Linked DNA regions of Homo sapiens. The protein of the gene in region 2 purifies or fractionates together with the protein of the main gene of each other region. This does not show direct contact. Each region holds a gene or a part of one and is shown on either strand. Other genes may lie near its edges. The genes, in order: MCOLN1 and LYSMD4.

Evidence for each region.
Region 1: the proteins of LYSMD4 (region 2) and MCOLN1 fractionate together in Homo sapiens (co-fractionation; one large-scale study listed by BioGRID). This does not show direct contact.

The regions. Positions count from the first base shown.
Region 1 is NC_000019.10:7,529,067-7,532,880, reverse strand, and holds part of MCOLN1 (mucolipin-1), read right to left. Parts: intron 3,781-3,814; coding exon 3,679-3,780; intron 3,292-3,678; coding exon 3,169-3,291; intron 2,596-3,168; coding exon 2,380-2,595; intron 1-2,379. UniProt on the Homo sapiens protein: Nonselective cation channel probably playing a role in the regulation of membrane trafficking events and of metal homeostasis. Acts as a Ca(2+)-permeable cation channel with inwardly rectifying activity.
Region 2 is NC_000015.10:99,726,817-99,730,663, reverse strand, and holds the end of LYSMD4 (lysM and putative peptidoglycan-binding domain-containing protein 4), read left to right. Parts: intron 1-932; coding exon 933-1,541; 3' UTR 1,542-3,259; downstream 3,260-3,847.

The DNA.
Region 1 (3,814 bases), on a different chromosome or scaffold from region 2:
CAGTCTAGAGGCGATGGAAGTATTCAATATCTATGCTGTCCAATATGGCAGCCACCAGCCACACTGGCTTTTGAGCACTGGATACAGGATGGTGCAAGTCAGAGGCTAAATTTGCAATTGTACTTCATTTGAATTAAAATTTTTAAAAAATTGTTGTTTTGTCTTTGAAGCAGAGTCTCGGTCTCTCGCCCACGTTGGAGTGCAGTGGCTTGATCTCGGCTCACTGCAACCTCTACGTCCCAGGTTCAAGCAATTCTACTGCCTCAGCCTCCGGAGTAGCTGGGATTACAGGTGCCTGCCACCACGTCCGCTAATTTTTTGTATTTTTAGTAGAGATGGGGTTTTGCCATGTTGGCCAGGCTGGTCTCGAACTCCTAACCTCAGGTGATCCACCCCCACCCCCCCTCGGCCTCCCAAAGGGCTGGGATTACAGGCGTGAGTCACCGTGCCCAGCCGGAATTAAAATCAAAATTTAAATAGCTGCATAGGGCTAGAGACTAGTGATGGATAGAACATTCTAGAAGCTCTCCTGGATCTCCTGTCATACCAATCTAAAGCAGGGGTCCCTCTGCAACCTTCCACTCTTCCTTCATACCTGTTACAAGTAGGTCATTGGTCATGGGATGTCTGTTCCTGTGCCATCCTTGCCCACAGGCCTTGGACGGATCATGCACACCTGATTTTCCTCCATGCCCAGAACCCAGCACAGATCTTGGCCCTTAGATATATCTGCTGAAAGAATCCTATCTACCTGCCACTTCCGCATCCTGCTCTGTCCCCTGACCCTTGCAGCTTGCAGGGAAACCACTGTTCCCAGCCACCCTACTAAACTGAGGACAGAGGGGTTAGGAGCACGGCTTCTGGAATCAGACAGCCCTGGGTTGAGCCCAGTTTTACTGCTCAGAAGCTAACCTGGGCCGGGCACAGTGGCTCACGCCCGTAATCCCAGCACTTTGGGAGCCTGAGGTGGGCGGATCACAAGGTCAGGAGTTTGAGACCAGCCTGGTCAACATGGTGAAACCCCATCTCTACTAAAAATACAAAAATTAGCCAGGCATGGTGGCGTGTGCCTATAATCCCAGCTACTCAGTAGGCTGAGGCAGGAGAATCGCTTGAACCCGGGAGGCAGAGGTTGCAGTGAGCCGAGATTGCACCACTGCACTCCAGCCTGGGTGACACAGCGAGACTCCGTCTCAAAAAAAATAAATAAATAAAGAAGCTAACCTTGGGCAGGGTCAGAGGGAGTCGGGGGCATGGCTGGGGGCTGGGGTCAGGGTTGGGTTTTTAGAGGTCCGCCATAGGAATGGGGCCAGCTGAGGATCACCATGTTAATGGCAACGTCCCAGGGTCAATGACAAGGTCATTGAAACTGTATGACTTAGCTGGGTTCAGTGGCTCATGCCTGAAATCCCAGCACCTTGGGAGGCCAAGGCAGGTGGATCACCTGAGGTCAGGAGTTCGAGACCAGCCTGGCCAACGTGGTGAAACCCCATCTCTAGTAAAAATACAAAAATTAGCCAGGTGTGGTGGCACGTGCAAGTAATCCCAGCTACTCAGGAGGCTGAGGCACAAGGATCGCTTCAACTCAGAAGGTGGAGGTTGCAGTGAGCCGAGATCATGCCATTGCACTCCAGCCTGGGCCACAGGGTAAGATTCCATTTCAAAAAAAAAATAATAATAATAGGCTGGGTGTGGTGGCTTACGCCTGTAATCCCAGCACTTTGGGAGGCCAAAGTGGGAGGATCACTTGACCTCAGGAGTTTGAAACCAGCCTGGGTAACACAGTGAGACCCTTGTCTCTAATAAAATAAAGAACAATACTTTAATAATAAAATAAAATAGGCCGGGCGTGGTGGCTCACGCCTGTAATCCCAACACTTTGGGAGGCCAAGGCAGTAGATCTCCTGAGGCCAGGAGTTTGAGACCAGCCTGACCAATGCGGTGAAATGCCATCTCTACTAAAAATACAAAAATTAGCTGGACGTGGTGGCGTGTGCCTGTAGTCCCAGCTACTCAGGAGGCTGAGACAGAATTGCTTGAACCCGGGAGGTGGAGGTTGCAGTGAGTCAAGATCGCACCACTGCACTCCACCCTGGGTGACAGAGCAAGACTCCGTCTCAAATAAACAAATAAATAAATAAACTCTATGACTCGGTTGCCCTGTTGGCAAAGACTGACTCAGGCCCCCTCCTGGCCCAAGCCCACCTTGACATCCCCCTGCGCCCCCCAGTTCTGAACCACCCTCTTTTTGGTTTCATAGAGTCTCCCATATTCTCTCCTGGGTCTTCTCTGTTCACCCTGCGGTGTCCCCAAGACCCCCTCATGGCAGACTCCAGGGCACCCAGAGCCCGAGCTCAGGGCTGGGTGCATGCGGCTGACCTTGATGGTGTCGTAGGCGCCGGTGATGAGCGCGATGAAGAGGCTGAGCACCATGTAGATGAAGAGGCTGATGAAGGAGTAAAGGTAGAGCTGGGAGAAGAGCCACACCAGGCTGCTGCGGCCCTGCTGCGCCTGCATGGCGGCGAACGTCACAAACATGTCGTCCCCATTGATGAGCGAGAACAGGCACTCAGACACCATGGAGAGTGAGCGGAACTGCCAGAGGGGCGGCGGGGTCAGAGGGAGCCAAGGCATGGCCAGGAACCGGGGGCTGGGGTCAGGCTGGGGTCCCATGCAAATGGCTAGGAGCTGGTGGCTGGGGCCCCACATGAATGGCCGGGTCCCGGGCTGCGGTCACCATGTGAATGGTCGGGTTCCAGGCTAGGGCCCCTGTGAATGGCCGGGTCCCAGGCTGGGGTCCCACGTGAATGGCCGGGACCCAGGCTGGGGTCCCACGTGAATGGCCGGGTCCCAGGCTGGGGTCACTATGTGAATGGCCAGGTCCCAGGCTGGGGTCCCATGTGAATGGCCGGGACCACGGGTCAATGACAGGGCCACAGGGCCGACCTAGGGTCTGGGTAGATAGAGCAGGAGGGGAGTAATTCAGGTCGAAATAGGGTCATCAACAACTGTGACAACAATAATGGCACAGGGTCAGTGTCAGGGTCACCAAGGACCACAGGGGACAGTGGACAGACTCCCAGCAGTCACCAAGGGGTCATCTGGGGGTCACAGTGTCAATGACAAGGTCACAGGGTCAATGTCAGGGACATCAGGGGTTAGATGTACCTTCACATGATAGGGCCCCAGCACGATCCAGCCACAGAAGCAGTAGCCCAGGTAGATGACAGCCACGCAGCAGCAGAAGCGCATGACGCTGGGCAGGGCCACCCGCAGTGTGGCGATGAGGATCTGGGTTGGGGCAGAGGGAGCCTCGTTGAGGGTGTGGCCACAACTCAGGTCAGCTGTGGGCACCCAGATGGGGGTGGGAGGGGCGGGGCCTTGCCGAGGGCACAGCCGGTGTGGTCATGGGAGCCAGTGGGTGCCTAGAGGGGGCGTGGCCACGTCTGAGGGGGTCCGAGGGCAACGCACGGCTAGACTCAGCTGGGTGGGCACAAAGGAGCAGGCTCCCGGGGCCCCGCGCAGGTGCAGTGACAGATATATCTGGTGTGGGCAGGTAGGAGGAGGAGGCTTGCAAGGGGCCATTGGCCGGGGCTGGTGAGGGCTGCGTGTGTAGGGATTTATTTGGAGGGTGTGGAGTAACCATGTGGAAGGCCCAGCTGCATGTGCAAAACTCACATTGTAGTTGTGGAAGAAGGTCAGGTAGCGGATCACGCCCACCCACACCAGCAGCGTCGAGGTGCCCAGGAGGATGCTGCAGACGTCGTAGCTCGCCAAGTTCTGCGGGTGGGAGCTGCGTCAACCTATCTGGCCC
Region 2 (3,847 bases):
ATTAGATTCAGGACATAGTGAATTAAAAATGTCCCCTACCCCAAATCAGTTACAATAACAGCAGTTGCTGAATAATAATGGAAATGATTGATTTGATTGAGATCTGTTGGCTGTATTCACTTTCTAGTTTAAGTGGACTTAAGTGTTAAAAGTTTGGAGTTCATCTCTGATGCTTTTGGAAAGTTTTCAAACATTAGTTTGAGGGAGGGGTTACCCTTTGACTTACATTCTCCCTGCTTCTTAAATCTTCGTGTTTGATTATGAGAGGAGTTTGTCATGAACTTTGTTACTTGATAAAACTCACAGCATTATTCCTTTTTCCTGACAGTTAAGTACAGTAACTGTAAGTCACTTTTATTTAATAAGTTTACATGCCCCACAGTGTTTCTGGGAAAGAAAATGCCGAGGGCATATCTGTCAACTTTATTACAGGTAAACTGGATTTTGAGTGTGTCTGCAGAGCTGGCTGAGGCTGTGTGTTTGGTGAATGCTAACATCTGGCAGCCACTGAGTTCTGGCATGAGGGGGAAGGCAGGCAGATGGGGGCACTATTGCCTCAAAAGTGAAAGGTGGAAAAGGCTGCAACATTCCTTTCAGTGCCATGGTGGTTTCGCCCAAAGCGATTTGTTGCAGTCACACTTTAAACAGTTTAAGAAAGATCTGTTTTTCAAAACTGATCTTAAATTGTTCAAACCTGTAAATCTTTAGGAATATCTGATTACTAAACTATATATTGAGGTTGAGTGAAAGCCAAAAAAACAAAATTTCAGCCTAAACTAACTTTGTGTACAGCTGCAGTTTTCCAGTCTTCATCAGATTCGTCAGTGAAGTGGGCTTGAATCATCACCCAGAAAGATTAAGAGCCACTTTTTGGAAAGTTATTTTTAAGGAGCTCCGCATATTTTATGATGTTTATCTTCGTGCCTTCCTAGGTTGCAGATATCAAGAAAGTCAACAACTTCATCAGAGAACAAGACTTATATGCTTTGAAATCTGTTAAGATTCCAGTGAGAAACCATGGGATCCTGATGGAGACCCACAAAGAACTGAAACCCCTTCTGAGCCCGTCTTCCGAGACCACAGTGACCGTGGAACTGCCAGAGGCAGACAGAGCAGGCGCGGGCACCGGTGCCCAGGCCGGCCAACTGATGGGCTTCTTTAAGGGGATTGACCAGGATATTGAGCGTGCAGTGCAGTCAGAAATCTTTCTACATGAAAGTTACTGCATGGACACCTCCCATCAGCCACTGCTCCCGGCACCTCCGAAGACGCCTATGGATGGTGCAGATTGTGGCATTCAGTGGTGGAATGCTGTTTTCATCATGCTGCTGATTGGTATTGTCTTGCCTGTCTTTTATTTGGTCTACTTTAAAATACAAGCTAGTGGTGAGACCCCTAATAGCTTGAACACAACTGTCATCCCCAATGGCTCGATGGCAATGGGTACAGTTCCAGGGCAAGCCCCCAGACTAGCAGTTGCAGTGCCAGCCGTCACTTCTGCAGACAGCCAGTTCAGTCAGACCACCCAAGCGGGGAGCTAAGCTTTGTTTTTAAAGACTAGGCCCAGCTTTAGCAATTGGCTGTTGATGTGCCTCAGCTGTCACTGGCGATGTCCTAGGGGTGCTGCATTTTGCTTCCGGGGAAGGATGGACACTTTTCAGAAGTCACTGCAGTATTCCCAATTGCACTGGCCCTGGGCATGGCCTTACCCAGTCTAAGCTGGCAGGATCTAAAACAGCAGCGACCTCGGCCCCTATCCAGAGAGGTGCAGCAAGAGAGCCATTTCCCTGTGACATTTAGTGGACTGGCCAGTTCATAGCAGCACTGTGAGGACCCCCAAGTTGGACGTGCTCGGAGGGAAAGATTTATGGCCTCTGTCGAGGGACCTGCAGCGTGAGAGCCAGTGGCATCTGCGCGGCTTGCCTGGCTCTTGCTGTATCCTCACTTCCTGTGGAGCGGGGATTGGCTCTGAGAAGGAGTGTTCTCTGTCTGCCTGGCAAAGGTGCTGTGGAATAGGCTTGGCATGCCACCCTGTTTTAGAGAGTGACAGTTACAGTTGTAACAAGCCTACTTCATATTGGCCCCCTCAGTTAGCCTTTTTGAGGCAATGCCATTTCTAGAGTTGAAAAAGCCCTGGACCCAAACTGCGGCACTGTTGAATAAAGGGCAGTCCTACTCCTGTCCTTTTAGAGTGGCTTAGTGTGACACACAGGCATCTCCCAGGCCAAGCACACACAGGCTGCGCCCAGTTCCGCAGGAGCCGTCCCACAGCGTGGCTCTCTGGATTCTCCCACTTGTCCTCCTTGGAAGGAGCTCTTGCTGGCCAGTGTTTGGAGGGGAGGATGAGTGCCTGTCACTGAGGCCTCACTATGGTTGGCGTCTGAAGCTGGGCGGTCGTCAGGCCTGTGCTGAGAGCCGCAGCCCCTGTGCACACCTAACACAGGGCGCTCCCCCTGCTGCTTCCCTGGCTCAGTTCTTCGGAGCTCCAGAGTGAGAAGGCCGCTTCGTCCTTTTTCTCTGGGTGATGCCCTTAGAATAACACTATATGCAATGTAACTCACAATGTTCCAGGACCAAAGACTTGATGGAGGGGCTAGAGGCGACCCTTGTTGTAAAAGGCGATCAGAACACCTGAGGGAGGAAGGGGCTTGCAGTTTTCCCAGCCCTTCTCGCTGCCAAGGCAGCAGTGGTGCTGTGGATGGGCTGGGGACTGCGGGACAGAGCCTGCTACTACTTGGGAGTTGGTGCTGCCCTGTGGCATGGAGGGGTGGGAGGGGCTGAGATGGCTGCTGGCCCGGCCTCCAAGAGTTCTGGACAGGAGGCAGACACTGCCCAGATGCTCGGTGGAGGGACAGTGATGGCCTTTGACTCATGAGGCCTGGAGAAAAGTATCAAAGGTCTCACCATGTAAGAGTGATTTCCGATTTCTCTCCTTTCAGTTGTGTGAAAAAACAGCTGGCCTGGGTTCCATTAGCAAATTAAATCATCTTCAATCTTAAATTAGAAACCAGAATGATCTTCAGGATAAAAAGAACTTCTGAATCTCTGCAATAGGAAATGTTTCGATCATGCAAGTGCTTTCCCAGCCAAATGTCTGTGCTCTCTGTGTCACTGAGGGCCACAGGTTCCTCTAACATCTGTCACTGTCACTTCACCAGGCAGGCCTTGGAGTTCCATGACAAAATCACTTTTGTCAGACAAAGAATGTATCCTTTACTTTTCTCAAATGGAATAAAATTATTTCTTCTGTGGAGGAAAATTGATTCCCCCTTTTTATTTAATTTTTTTTTGGAGACAGTCTCACTCCTTCCCCCAGGCTGGAGTGCAGTGGTGCGATCTGGGCTCACTGCAACCTCCACCTCCCGGGTTCAAGCGATTCTCCTGCCTCAGCCTCCTGAGTAGCTGGGATTGCTATCACACATCACCATGCCTGGCTGATTTTTGCATTTTTAGTAGAGATGGGGTTTAGCCATGTTGGCCAGGCTGATTTCGAACTCCTGACCTCAGATAATCTGCCCACCTCAGCCTCCCTAAGTGCTAGGATTACAGACGTGAGCCACTGCACCTGCCTCAACCTTTTAAAATTTGGGGATTGATAATTTAGCGTTAAAAGATGTGGGATGCTGCTGGAGAAGATGGAGGTGTCTGTCAGGAGTGAGGACTGTGCCTGTTCCCTGCACCTGGCCACCAACTTGGGGCTTGTACTGTGCCCGAGGTTACTCAGACAGGTGCAGGACAAAGTGGTGACCAGTGCTCTAGGGATGATTGATCACTGATTGATCTGTATACAGGCTTTAATATTGCTTTATTAGGTGTATATAAGAAATAACCACGATACTTCCTATTC